Regions from separate parts of the Homo sapiens genome. Here region 2 is linked to region 1. The links come from fine-mapping of genetic effects on gene expression. A gene starts in region 1. The other region holds a variant in brackets. All regions are shown on one strand. Distances are from middle to middle.

What was found. PIP is the estimated chance that this variant, and not a neighbour inherited with it, causes the effect.
Region 2: its variant is the best candidate, but not a certain one, in a credible set for the expression of TMEM125 in tibial nerve (GTEx, PIP 0.71).

Annotation. Positions count from the first base shown.
Region 1 is chr1:43,267,248-43,272,612 of GRCh38, reverse strand. TMEM125 (transmembrane protein 125) reads right to left here and starts at 2,630. Exons shown (of 4, transcript NM_144626.3): 1 at 2,528-2,630; 2 at 1,820-1,932; 3 at 274-429; 4 at 1-35. RefSeq lists an enhancer at 2,496-2,999.
Region 2 is chr1:43,303,296-43,308,660 of GRCh38, reverse strand. It overlaps TIE1 (tyrosine kinase with immunoglobulin like and EGF like domains 1), which reads right to left. Exons shown (of 23, transcript NM_005424.5): 2 at 3,496-3,810; 3 at 3,318-3,428; 4 at 1,666-1,821; 5 at 1,388-1,519; 6 at 1,089-1,229; 7 at 737-865. Among named protein-coding and RNA genes, the nearest start is that of TIE1, 5.0 kb to the right of the region's middle. The variant G/C (reference allele first, on the strand shown) is at 3,083.

The sequences.
Region 1 (5,365 bases):
ATTCCTCTCACAGTCCAGGATATGGTCACCCTCACCTGTAGGGGAAGGATCACAGTCTTACCTTCCCAGCCCACCTGTCCCCCACGGTCCCACCTGGGAGCCTTGGGGATGATCCCTGAGAATCCACCCCAGTGTTCCCCCGAATCTCCCCTGGGATAGCCCCCTCTGCAGTACTGTCCCTTGGGAATGGCTCTCCAATGACCCCAGGGGAGTACCCTGCCCATAGGGTACCCCCTAAAACCCTCCAGGGAATCCCCTCACCCAGGCCCTGACCTCTCTGCCTCTGGCTCTCTCAGTCGCTGGTCCCATCCCGGCTGGCTGAGGGAGCTGGTGCCACGGTGGACGATGGGACGAACAGCCAGAGATAAAGCCTCATTCAGGATCCTACTCACATGGCCTCAGCTGTCACCACTGGTTCCTCGGGAGGAGCTGTGGGGATGGAGGGGGCGCTTATGACTTAACCCTTCTGGAACCAGAAGCCTGACTGACCTTGACACTTCTCTTTTAGGGCTGTGTCTCCTCCTTCTCTGTGGGTTAGGACCAGACCCCTAACACCCTCCCTCCCCTAACATCCCATCCAATCTCACAGCCATGAGTTTGGTAATATAAGCTGCCAGTTCCCAAATTCCTCTCTCCAACCTACATCTCCGTCCTGAGTCAATTGTCACCTTGATGTCCCTGTGATGCAACAGGTCCCAACCCAAGCTCGTTGTCTTACTCCAACCTGTTCCTTCTGCGTTCCTCACTTCAGGCATGGCATCACTGCCCTCTCAGCCAGCTCCTCCTCCCTCTGCTGTATCTAATCCACGTCCTGTCCCTGGGGCTCCACCTCTAAACATTTCTCTAGCCAGTTCCCTGCTCTCGTATCCTTGGCTCCCGCCTCCACCTCCTCACTGGTCTTTCTGCTCCCCTTGCTCTTCTCCACACTCGCCATTCCCCCATGCCATCCTCCTCCACGATTTCTCTAAAGTGGAGCAAAGGAAAAAGGAGGGCTCTGGATTTGAACCCCAGCTCCAGTCCTTCCCACCGGTAGGAACATGGCCAGGCACCTAACAGTGGCTGCTGATTTAACCTGTCCTCCAGAGGAAAGCATGTCTCACATTGGGCAAAAATAAAGCACATGAGGTCCCTGCCTTCAAGGAGCCCCAGTCTGCAGCAGAAGACAGAGACAGAAGCAAGCAGGCCAGTGCCTGTGCTAAGTGTGGGTGTGGGTTAGTCAGCCCAGAGCCCTGCAGAGCCCAGGAGAGGGGTCTGGGGGAGGGGCCAGGAAGCCTGAATGGTTCGTCTCTTAGAGCCTCAGTCTCCTTGTCTGAAAAGTGAAGACAATAACATTTATCTTGAGGGGTGGGGATGAGTCACCTGACATCTTCGTTTCAGAATTCCAGTGGGGCCTAGAGCCTGCATAGATGCTCAAAGCGTGCTTTTTGAATACATGAAAACGATGTTACCCCTCCAAGGCAGGACAGGGCAGAAGACGTAGGTCCTGGGTCATTCTGGGAATATTACTATGTGGCCGTGCACAGGTTACATCCTGACGAGGTATCTGTCCTCCCGGAGACTCCTCTGCAGAGGCTGACCCCTACCCCCGAGGTGGGCGGGGGCTGGTGCCGATGCTCTCAAGGAAGTGGGGGAGGTGGGCGTGGCCGTGGAGTCAGTCCCAGCATTCCCCTGGGCTGTGACTTCGTTGGTCTGAAAATGCTTGCACAGGTGTGCTGAGACAACGGGTGTCAGGCTGGGGGCGGGGTGGAGGTTCTCAGGGGAGAAGCGAGTGGGAGAACATGGGGGCGGTGGGGCGTTGGGGGACAATGGGGGAACTCACGAGAAGCCTGGATGTGCTGGATCCGATCCGAGAAGGCAGGGCCGAGCAGGTGGGGCACTCTAGCTTGGTTTCCGGGGAGACACTTCACCTGCCTAACCTGCACTCAGGTGAGCCTGCCGGGAGGAGGATGAACAGGTGTCGTTTCCAGGGCAGGGCCTGAGCCGATTGGCTGACGTGGCACTGCTCCTTCTGCTGGGCTGAGGCATTCCTGTGAAGGGAGGGGCTTCTGTCCGCTGCAGTTAGGGCTCGGAACACAATTCGCAGACCTGGGCAGCAGGAGGAATGTCGTCTATCTGCCCCAGAGCCTGGGCGCCAACCCATTCCACAGCTCCGACCCCGATTTAGCTTTAGCTCCAGCTTCAAAACCAACCCCTAACTCTAGCTGCAGCTGCAAACCCTAGCTAGAACTCCCAGCTTCCACCCCTGCCCCAGCTCCTGCGTCACATCTCAGCCCCAACCCCCAGCCCCATTTCCAAATTCAATTCCAGTCCCAACTCCAAATCCAACCCCTAATCTGGCTAGAAACCTCAGCCCCCAACTCCTAACTCCAACTCAAATTCTGGACTAAGGTCCTAGATCCCAACCTCACGCTCAGCCCGAACCTCGACTCCTGTTCCTGAATCCAGCCCCCAAACCCAACGCCAACCTCAAACCCAGCTTTAGCCCCAAATTCCAACATCAGCGGACCCCCAAACACAGCCCCAGTACCTCCATCCCTTGGCCCTAGGCTGCAGCCTCCAAAAGCCCCGTGCTCATTCTCCCTCAAATGAGCCCCACAGACTGGATCCTACTGGGGAAGCAGGATTTGAGTGAACAGGGAGGAGGGGTGAAGGCCTTTCAGGCAGGAGACAGGAACTCCCAGAATAAACACTTCAGAAGAAATGCCACACTCCTTCACAAGGCTCATAAAGCCCCTGCCATATACACCAGGCCAGTCATTTGCCACTGGCACCCTGCCCTCCTCTCTGCCCTTCCAGTTTTTGAACTCAAGAGTTCTCCCTTGCCTGGGATATTTGCCACTCCCCAGCCTCAGTCTGGGCAACTTGCATTCTTCAACTGAGATGCCACCTCCTCCAGGAAGCCTTCCCTGACTTGCAGGCTGGTTTAGAGGTGCCTCTTTGGTGCACCCATGGCCCCTGTGCTTCCCCAACAACTACTCTTACTGCAATATGCTTAATTGCCTATTATGTATTTACCTGTCATTCCCTGCTAGATGTGTGGTCCCCAGCAAGCAGACGGACAGTGCCTCTTTTGCTAATCATCATGACCTCAGTAGCTAGTATGTAGGACGTAATCAATACATATTTGTTGAATGATTGATTAGCAGACTAAATGATAGCATGAACTGACAGCTGTGGGGGTTTTGAGCAGGAAGCATGTGAGAGGAAGCTGGAAAGACAAGTTTGGCTCAGGCTGTTCAGGGTCTTGAAGGCCCATAGTGAGGCACTTGGGCTGTGTAAGGGGCCCATGGAGGGTTCTAAAGTTTAATAGGGACATGGTGGGAGCTTCTAATAGGCAAATCTGGCACCACACACACACCACCCTCCGGACTGGTGAAGGGCAGGCTGGCTGGAGCTGTTGTAGGCTGTCCCTCATCTCCTGGATCAGCCCCTGTGATGTCTCTTGCTTTCTCCTCCTGATGTGTATGAACTAGAAAAGAAAAACAAGATCACCCTTATCTTGTTATTATCAGTTCACAAAATAATGGTGCTCGACCTGCTTTCGCATCTCTTTGCTTTGTTCTGCGGAGATGACTGGAGGCCAGTCATAATTCTAGAACAGCCCTGTCCGCTAGAAATATAGCCTGAGCCGCCGGGCATGGTGCCTCACGCCTGTAATCCCAGCACTTTGGGAGGCTGAGGTGGGCGGATCACGAGGTCAGGAGTTCAAGAGCAGCCTGGCCAACGTGGTGAAACCTCGTCTCTACTAAAAATACAAAAATTAGCCAGGCATGGTGGCAGGCCCCTGTAATCCCAGCTACTCAGGAGGCTGAGGCAGGAAAATTGCTTGAACTTGGGAGGCAGAGGTTCAGTGAGGCGAGATTGTGCCATCGCACTCCAACCTGGGTGACAGAGCAAGGCTCCGTCTGCGGGCGGGGGCTGGGGCACGGGGAAGAAAAAAGAAATATAGCGTGAGCTACATATATAAACTTTTCTAATAGCTGCATTCAAAAATGAAAAAGAAACCCATGAGATTAATACATTTAAATTAATACATTTTAATTCCAAAACACATTTTTATATATGTTATTGATGAGCTATTTTACAGTTTTATTTTGTACAGGGTATTTTATTTTTATTTTTAAAAATAGAGATGGGGGTCTCGCTATGTTGTCCAGGCTGTTCTCAAACTCCTGGGTTCAAGCGATCCTCCTGCCTTGGCTTCCCAAAGTGCTGAGATTACAGGCGTGAACCAAAAGTCTTGAAAATTTGGTAGGTATTATTTTATACTTACAGAGCATCTCATTTATCCCAGCCACACTGCAAATGCCCAGGCACCACATCTGTCATGTGGCTGTGTCCTTACTGGATGGCATGGCTTTAGATGTCCTTTCCCTCAGAAAAAGGTCAGTGCAGTCTGGATCAGGAGGATGGTTGGGCGGAGTGGGGTGGGGAGACAGTGGTGTGGCATTGCAGGTGTTCATCCTGCCAATTTGCAAAGCATTATAAAGGTATCCCCTTTATAATAAAGGGGCTTGACTCAGAGGAGCAGGGGAGCCAGGGGCCCAACAGGGCTTGCTGGCTGCAGATTCCTCTTGCACACATCTGACATTTATTTACCCACCCTGGTCCCCAGGTCCAGTCCCAGCCAGACCCATGGGCCAGCTGTCCCAGGCAGAGCTGCAGCAGGGGACCCATGAAATTTTCCTTCCTTTACCCCTTCCCTTAGGGGTTTGAAGGGAAATTTTTGGATGGGAGAAACAACACCTAAAAGCTTCGTTGGTTTAAACATTGATTGGGCAAGTCTCTATTCTAGTTCTGGGTCTTATCAAGTAACTTGGAGTCAAGTGGAAAGGCAGGCTCTTCACAGGGCTGTTGAACTCTGTCCCCAAAGCAGAGGTTGTTGGGGTAATTCAGATTGGTGACGGTGAAGGTCAGGAGGAGGAGGTGGCCGTGGGCACAAAGCGGAAGGTGCGGACGAACCACCCGCAGATCCACAAGAAGGTGGTGAATGGGAGTACTGTGGGGAGAACACAGAGGCTGTGGGGCTGTCTCCCAGCTTCTGCCATGTTCCCACCACAGGCTGTTCTCAACCCAGTGGCCCGAGTGATTCAGTTAGGAGGTGCAGAGTCCCTCCAGCAGCCCGCCTTCCTCAGAGGAACAGAGTCCTCCCACCGCCATAAGGCCCTCTCTGGCTTCATTCCTATTGCCTCAGAGCCTCTGCACCAGCAGCTCCATCTGCCTGGAATGCTTCTGACCCACATGGCTCCCTCCCTCCCTCCCTCCTTCAGGAATGTTCTCAAATGGCATCTTCTCAGGGAGACTTGTTGGCCACCTCATCTCAAATTGCAACCTCCCAGTACTTCCTATCCCCTGCCCTTGTGTT
Region 2 (5,365 bases), 36 kb before region 1:
CGCTCCCCGGCCAGCAGCTAGGGGTCCTTTCTCCAACACGGATCTGACTACCTTGTTCCTTTTTAACAATTCCCTCTTGCCCCATCATATGAAGTGCAAACTCTTTGGCCTTCATTCAAAGGCCCCACGATTTGACCTCTTCTGACCATTTCCCCAGTCCCCCACTCCACTGTCCTGGTACCCAAACCTGAGTCCCCAATCCCTGGGTCCCCTACCCCACTGTCCTGGCACCCAAACCTGAGTCCCCAATCCCTGGGTCCCCTACTCCACTGTCCTGGCACCCAAACCTGAGTCCCCAATCCCTGGGTCCCCTACTCCACTGTCCTGGCACCCAAACCTGAGTCCCCAATCCCTGGGTCTTTGCTCTTGTTCTTTCCTCAGTTATCTCTCTTTTGTCCTTCATATCTAATCTCAGATCACACCTGCTTCCAGACCCTTCTCTGACCTGCTCAGTCTGCCCAGGGGCATCCTCTGGGCTCCCACATTCTCTGGGCTGCTGCCCTTTCCACTATGGCTGGCTGGCAGTGAGCTCCTTGCTGGACTGGCTCCCTGCTGGACTGACTCCCTACCAGACTGACTCCCTGCCAGAGCTCCCTGTCCATCAGACTCTAAGCTCCCTGAGGGCAGGACTTGGACCCTCGTAGGGAAAGGAGGGACTACTCTCTTCCACCGGGGAGATGTGTTTGGTAAAGGCCGACTTATCTTGGGGGGCTCTCAGAGGTCATAGTGCTTATACCTGACTTCTCACAGTGCACTCCATGCCACCCAGAGGGGCAGACACAACCACTGAACCGGTCACAAGTGCCACCATTCTGACACTGGCACTGGAGTCGGCAATCAGCCCCAAAATGACCAGGGGCACAAGCTGGGAATAGAGGAGGTATGATTAGAGGGGCATGGGACAGGGGGCAATGAGGGCACAGATGAGGGCGCAGATGGGGCACAGGTTATACAACAGGCTGAGGATAGAAGGACTGGTCAAGTGAGCAGGAGGGCTTGCTGCGTAAGTCAGAGGCAGAGTGGAGGGTCCGGGTCAAGCTCCTGGCCAGCTGTCTTGGTCAGGGACCATGAGGGTAGGTTAGGCATACCTTCTTGGCACTGGCTTCCTCTCCAGCCAGATCCACAAGAGCAGCCATAGGGGTCTGGGAGGCAGAAGGTGAGGCCCCGGCAGCCTGATATGCCTGGGCACTGCTCCTGGCAGCTCTGCCCAAAACGGCCCTCTCTGCAGGCTAGAAAGAGAGTGTGTGGGGTGTATGGGCCTCTGTGGGCCCCTGGGCCCAGGACCTGCCTGTCGCCCTTACCCTCCAAGCTCCACCCACATGGTTCTAGGGTCTTCTCCCAGTCAGGGATCCTCTCCTGCCTGGGTCCTAGCTCCCCTCCTCCTTACCCTGTTCACAGCGGGTGCCAGTGAAGCCAGGGGGGCATACACATTCGCCGTCATGGTCGTGGCAGACACCTCCATGTAGGCAACCTGGGCACTCCTTGGTACAGCCTGGCCCCCAGCGCCCAGCCCCACAACCTGGAGGAAGGTGTCTTCAGCAGCTGACCCTCACCCACCTGACCACTGAGGACTGGAGATCCAGGGGCTCCAGGGGACCCACAGGAAGTACCCATAGGGCTCCCAGCCTCCCACCCTACCCACAACCTCTGCCCTCTGCCTCTGACCCCGCACGATGAGCCGAAAGAAGGCGCTGCCCAGGGGGCTGGCTTCCAGGTAAGTGGCACTGTAGATGCCGCTCGATGGTGGCTGCACATTTGGGAGCTGCAGCAGGAACCGCCCATCCTGGGCTTCATGCCAGTCCAGGGTGTAGAAGTAGGATCCTGGGGGACATGAATGTGTCAGGGGCCTCAGCACTACATGAGGGCTGTGTCACCTCTCTCTGTCCACCTCTGCTCAGCTCACATCAATGAGCCCCATGCACAGTGATGAGACCTAGGGCCGGCACCACGAGAGCCTATGCCCACGCCAGAAAGCTCAGAAGTGCCCTCTTCTTCATGCTCCACCAGCCACCCAGTAAATCACCAAGTCCTGCTCAGTCCATCTCCTCCTCATCCCCTAACCCAGTCCGCTTCTCCCCACACCCACTGCCACTGCCCTGGTCCTAGCCTCCAGGGGCCTCACAAGGCTCCTCTGCCTCCAGTGTCACCCTTTCTTGTCCCTCCTCCACCCAGCAGCCAGGGTGATTTTTTACAACAGACTCCTCTCTAACTCCTCTGCTGAAACTCTCCTGGTTCTCCAGTGACCTCAGGACAAAAATCCAGCTCCTTAGACATCATTTTCACCAACTTGGCCGTGGCCAAGCCATCCAGCCCCATTCGTCTTCACACCCTTCTTGACTCCTAACATTCCTGAATTCCTGAATGGATTGTTTCTCTTCTAGAAACACCCTTGTGTTTCAGACCCTACTGCTCTTCTCAGTCCCTCCTCCTGGAAGGCCCTTCCTTCCTTTTCTGCCTTCTTTGTCTTCCCACTTCTCCTCTGAGCACAATTCAAGTGCCATCTACTCTAGGGTCTCTCCCCTGAGCCTCTCCCTCTTAGAAGAGTGCTCCAGTCGCTGCCCCACCCGCTTCTTGCCTCTTTGCTCAGGGCTGAACAGAGAGCCTAGAGACCCAGGTCTGCCTGTGCCTCTTCACATTTCCTGTCAATTCACGGGGTCCAGAGCTCAGGAGGCAGCCCCCTTGGCCAAAGGGAAGGGTCTTCCTCCCTCAGGAGCCCAGGTATGCAAGAGTCAGCCAAGGGGTTGTGAATCTGAGGACTGAGGCAGGAATCTTGGGGCCACATAGGAAAACAGCTTCCTTCTATGGGGTGGCCAAAGGGTCAGGGTGGAGGACAGGCCTGGGACTGAGATCCCACGGGTCTACCCAGGCCTCAGCATGAGGCTGTCTTGGGCATCAAGGATCTGGGCTGGACAGATCTTTGGGAGAGGCTAGACTCTGCCCTGCCTGTGTTGGGCATGATGTTACCAGTTCTCTTCCTCCTCAGGGGGACTGATGCGGTCTGCCAGGTGGGCTATGTGACAGCACCTGCTAACTCCCAGGGGAGAGATGAGGGTTTAACATCGTGCTCATTTGGGGCTAAGAG[G/C]GAAGGGGCAGCTGACCACAGGCTCCTGGCCCTCTGTGTACAGAAGGAAGGCAGCTCAGAACTACAGATAAGATGGGTGCAGGCACATCCCATGGGACCTGGTCCACTACAGAGGAGAGGCCCTGGAGGTCGGGTGTGTCAGGGGCCAAAGCTGAGGGTCCCATGGGTCATGAAAGTGTTGGGGCCTCAGAACGATGGGTCTACCCTCCCCACCAGTTCAAATGCCCCTCTTTACCGTTGCTCTTCCAGATCACGTCTGTCTGCTTCTCCTTGTGCACACGTGCAGAAAGTACAGCGGTGTCACCTTTGTTCACAGTGTGTGTGACCTTGTCTGGAAGCAGGTGGGCTGCGGGGTGGAAGGTGGGTCAGCGGCCTGGTTTTCCCCGCGCCATCCCCCCGCCTGCCTAACTCACCTCCAGGGCTGTTGTGCACGTAGATGACGCGCGTGCGCCGCGCCCCAGCACCGCCCACGCAGGAGAAGACGCCCACGAGGTCCGAGGGCTTGGAGAAGCCGCGAAGCGTGACCTGGTGCGAACCGTTGCGCGCCAGGCGCAGGGGTGGCCCGGGCGGGGTGCGCACGATACGGTCGTCCTTCTCCAGCAGCAGGGGCGGGCCCCAGGCGTCCGAGCCCCTCCCCGCCCCGGCCTCCCCAGACACGCAAGTCAGGAAGAAGCGCTGGGGGTCCGTGAGCCGCAGGTTGGCCAGCAGCGTCAGGTCCACCGCCGCGCCTGGGGCCAGGACACCAGTGACTCTATTGTAGTCCCAGCCAACCCTAGTGCCCCAGAGCCCCCAGCCCCAGCCCTCTGGTCTTACTGATCCACCGTCCACTCAGAAGAGGGTCTCCAACCTTCACCCCTCTTCCTTCCCCTGCCCGGTTCTTCAGACCCCACAGGCCTCACTTTATCAGGCATTCCCATCCCCCTCCTTTCCCCTTCCATGCGCACTGGCCTCTTTCCCTCAAGTCTCTTCATTCTAAAAGAACAAAAACAAAACCACGAATCCTTCTCTGGCCGTGTCCCCTCCCTTCTCCTGCCAGATGGCTTCCCTTTCGCCCCAGCTTTCGGAAAGAATGATCTATGCTCCCTGTCTCCGTTTCCTCACTTTATTTCTATCAGTCCTGTTTCCCCACTCGTCTCTAAAACTGCCCTGCAAAGGTTGCTGTGAGCCACTTCTCCCTGCCTCCACCACGAGAGTGCAGGCCAGGAGAGCCAGCCAGAACAGAAGTGTCCCATGGGTCCCCCTCTCTGTCACTATGGAGATCTAGAAATGTCTGGTGGGCTGGGATTTGAGGTGGGAGAGGCTGAGTTTTGCAGCCAGAAGGTTGTGGCACAGAAATGGAGCTAGGGCTGGGTGCGGTGGCTCACGCCTGGAATCCCAGCACTTAAGGAGGCAGAGGTGGGAGGATCCTTTGAGCACAGGAGTTTGAGATCAGCCAGGGCAACATAGCAAGACCCCATTCTCCAGAAAAAGAAAAACAAAAAGAAATGGAGCTAAGCTTGGGGCTGGGCCCAGAGCCAGGGAGGGCAGCCCCAGGGCAAGGCCTGGAGCCCAGACAGACACAGACACGAGGTAGGTCTTGGTCTTTGTTTGCCTTCCAAAGAGCTCACGCCCTAGTTGGAGGAACAGGCATGAACACAGCTGCCAAATGTAGGGCGCTGTGCTTTTGAGCACAGAGAAGGGACCCCTGCTCCAGCCTGGGGGAGCTCAGGGAGATGAAGAGATGCTTCCTGGGAGGTACAGTTGGAGCAGGGCACATTGGCGTGAGGACAATGGGGAGGGAGAGAAATCAGGGGCAGGGAGAGGGCATCCTAGACAGAGGGAACAGCCTGGACAGAGGCCTGCAGTGGCAATATTGTGGCAGGTGGAGGGGGCTCTCCAGGTTTGTGTGACTGGAGTACAAAATGTGAGGCTGAGGCAGGAGAGATCAGGTGGAGTCAGAGTCCAGTCTGGACGGTGGAGAGCCTGCGAGCCTGCCTTAGCTCCAGGACCCAGAACCCCTCCACCAGCCAAGCCCTTCCTTCTCTGTCTCTTGTAGCTGACTGTCAAGCAGTTCATTAGTTTAAATGCCACCTAGCTTATCAGTGTTTGAAAGGCTACCATGAGCAAACGAAGCTGGCATTTACTGACCGCCCACCACATACCAACCCCCATTTTCCACTGGATCCTCACAACCAGTGAAGTGGATATTCTTTCCAGTTACAGAGGAGGATCATGGTAATTATTCTACTGGCTTCTTTGAGCAAGCTCGCCCACTCCCCCAGTTTTAACCATCACCTCTGAGTC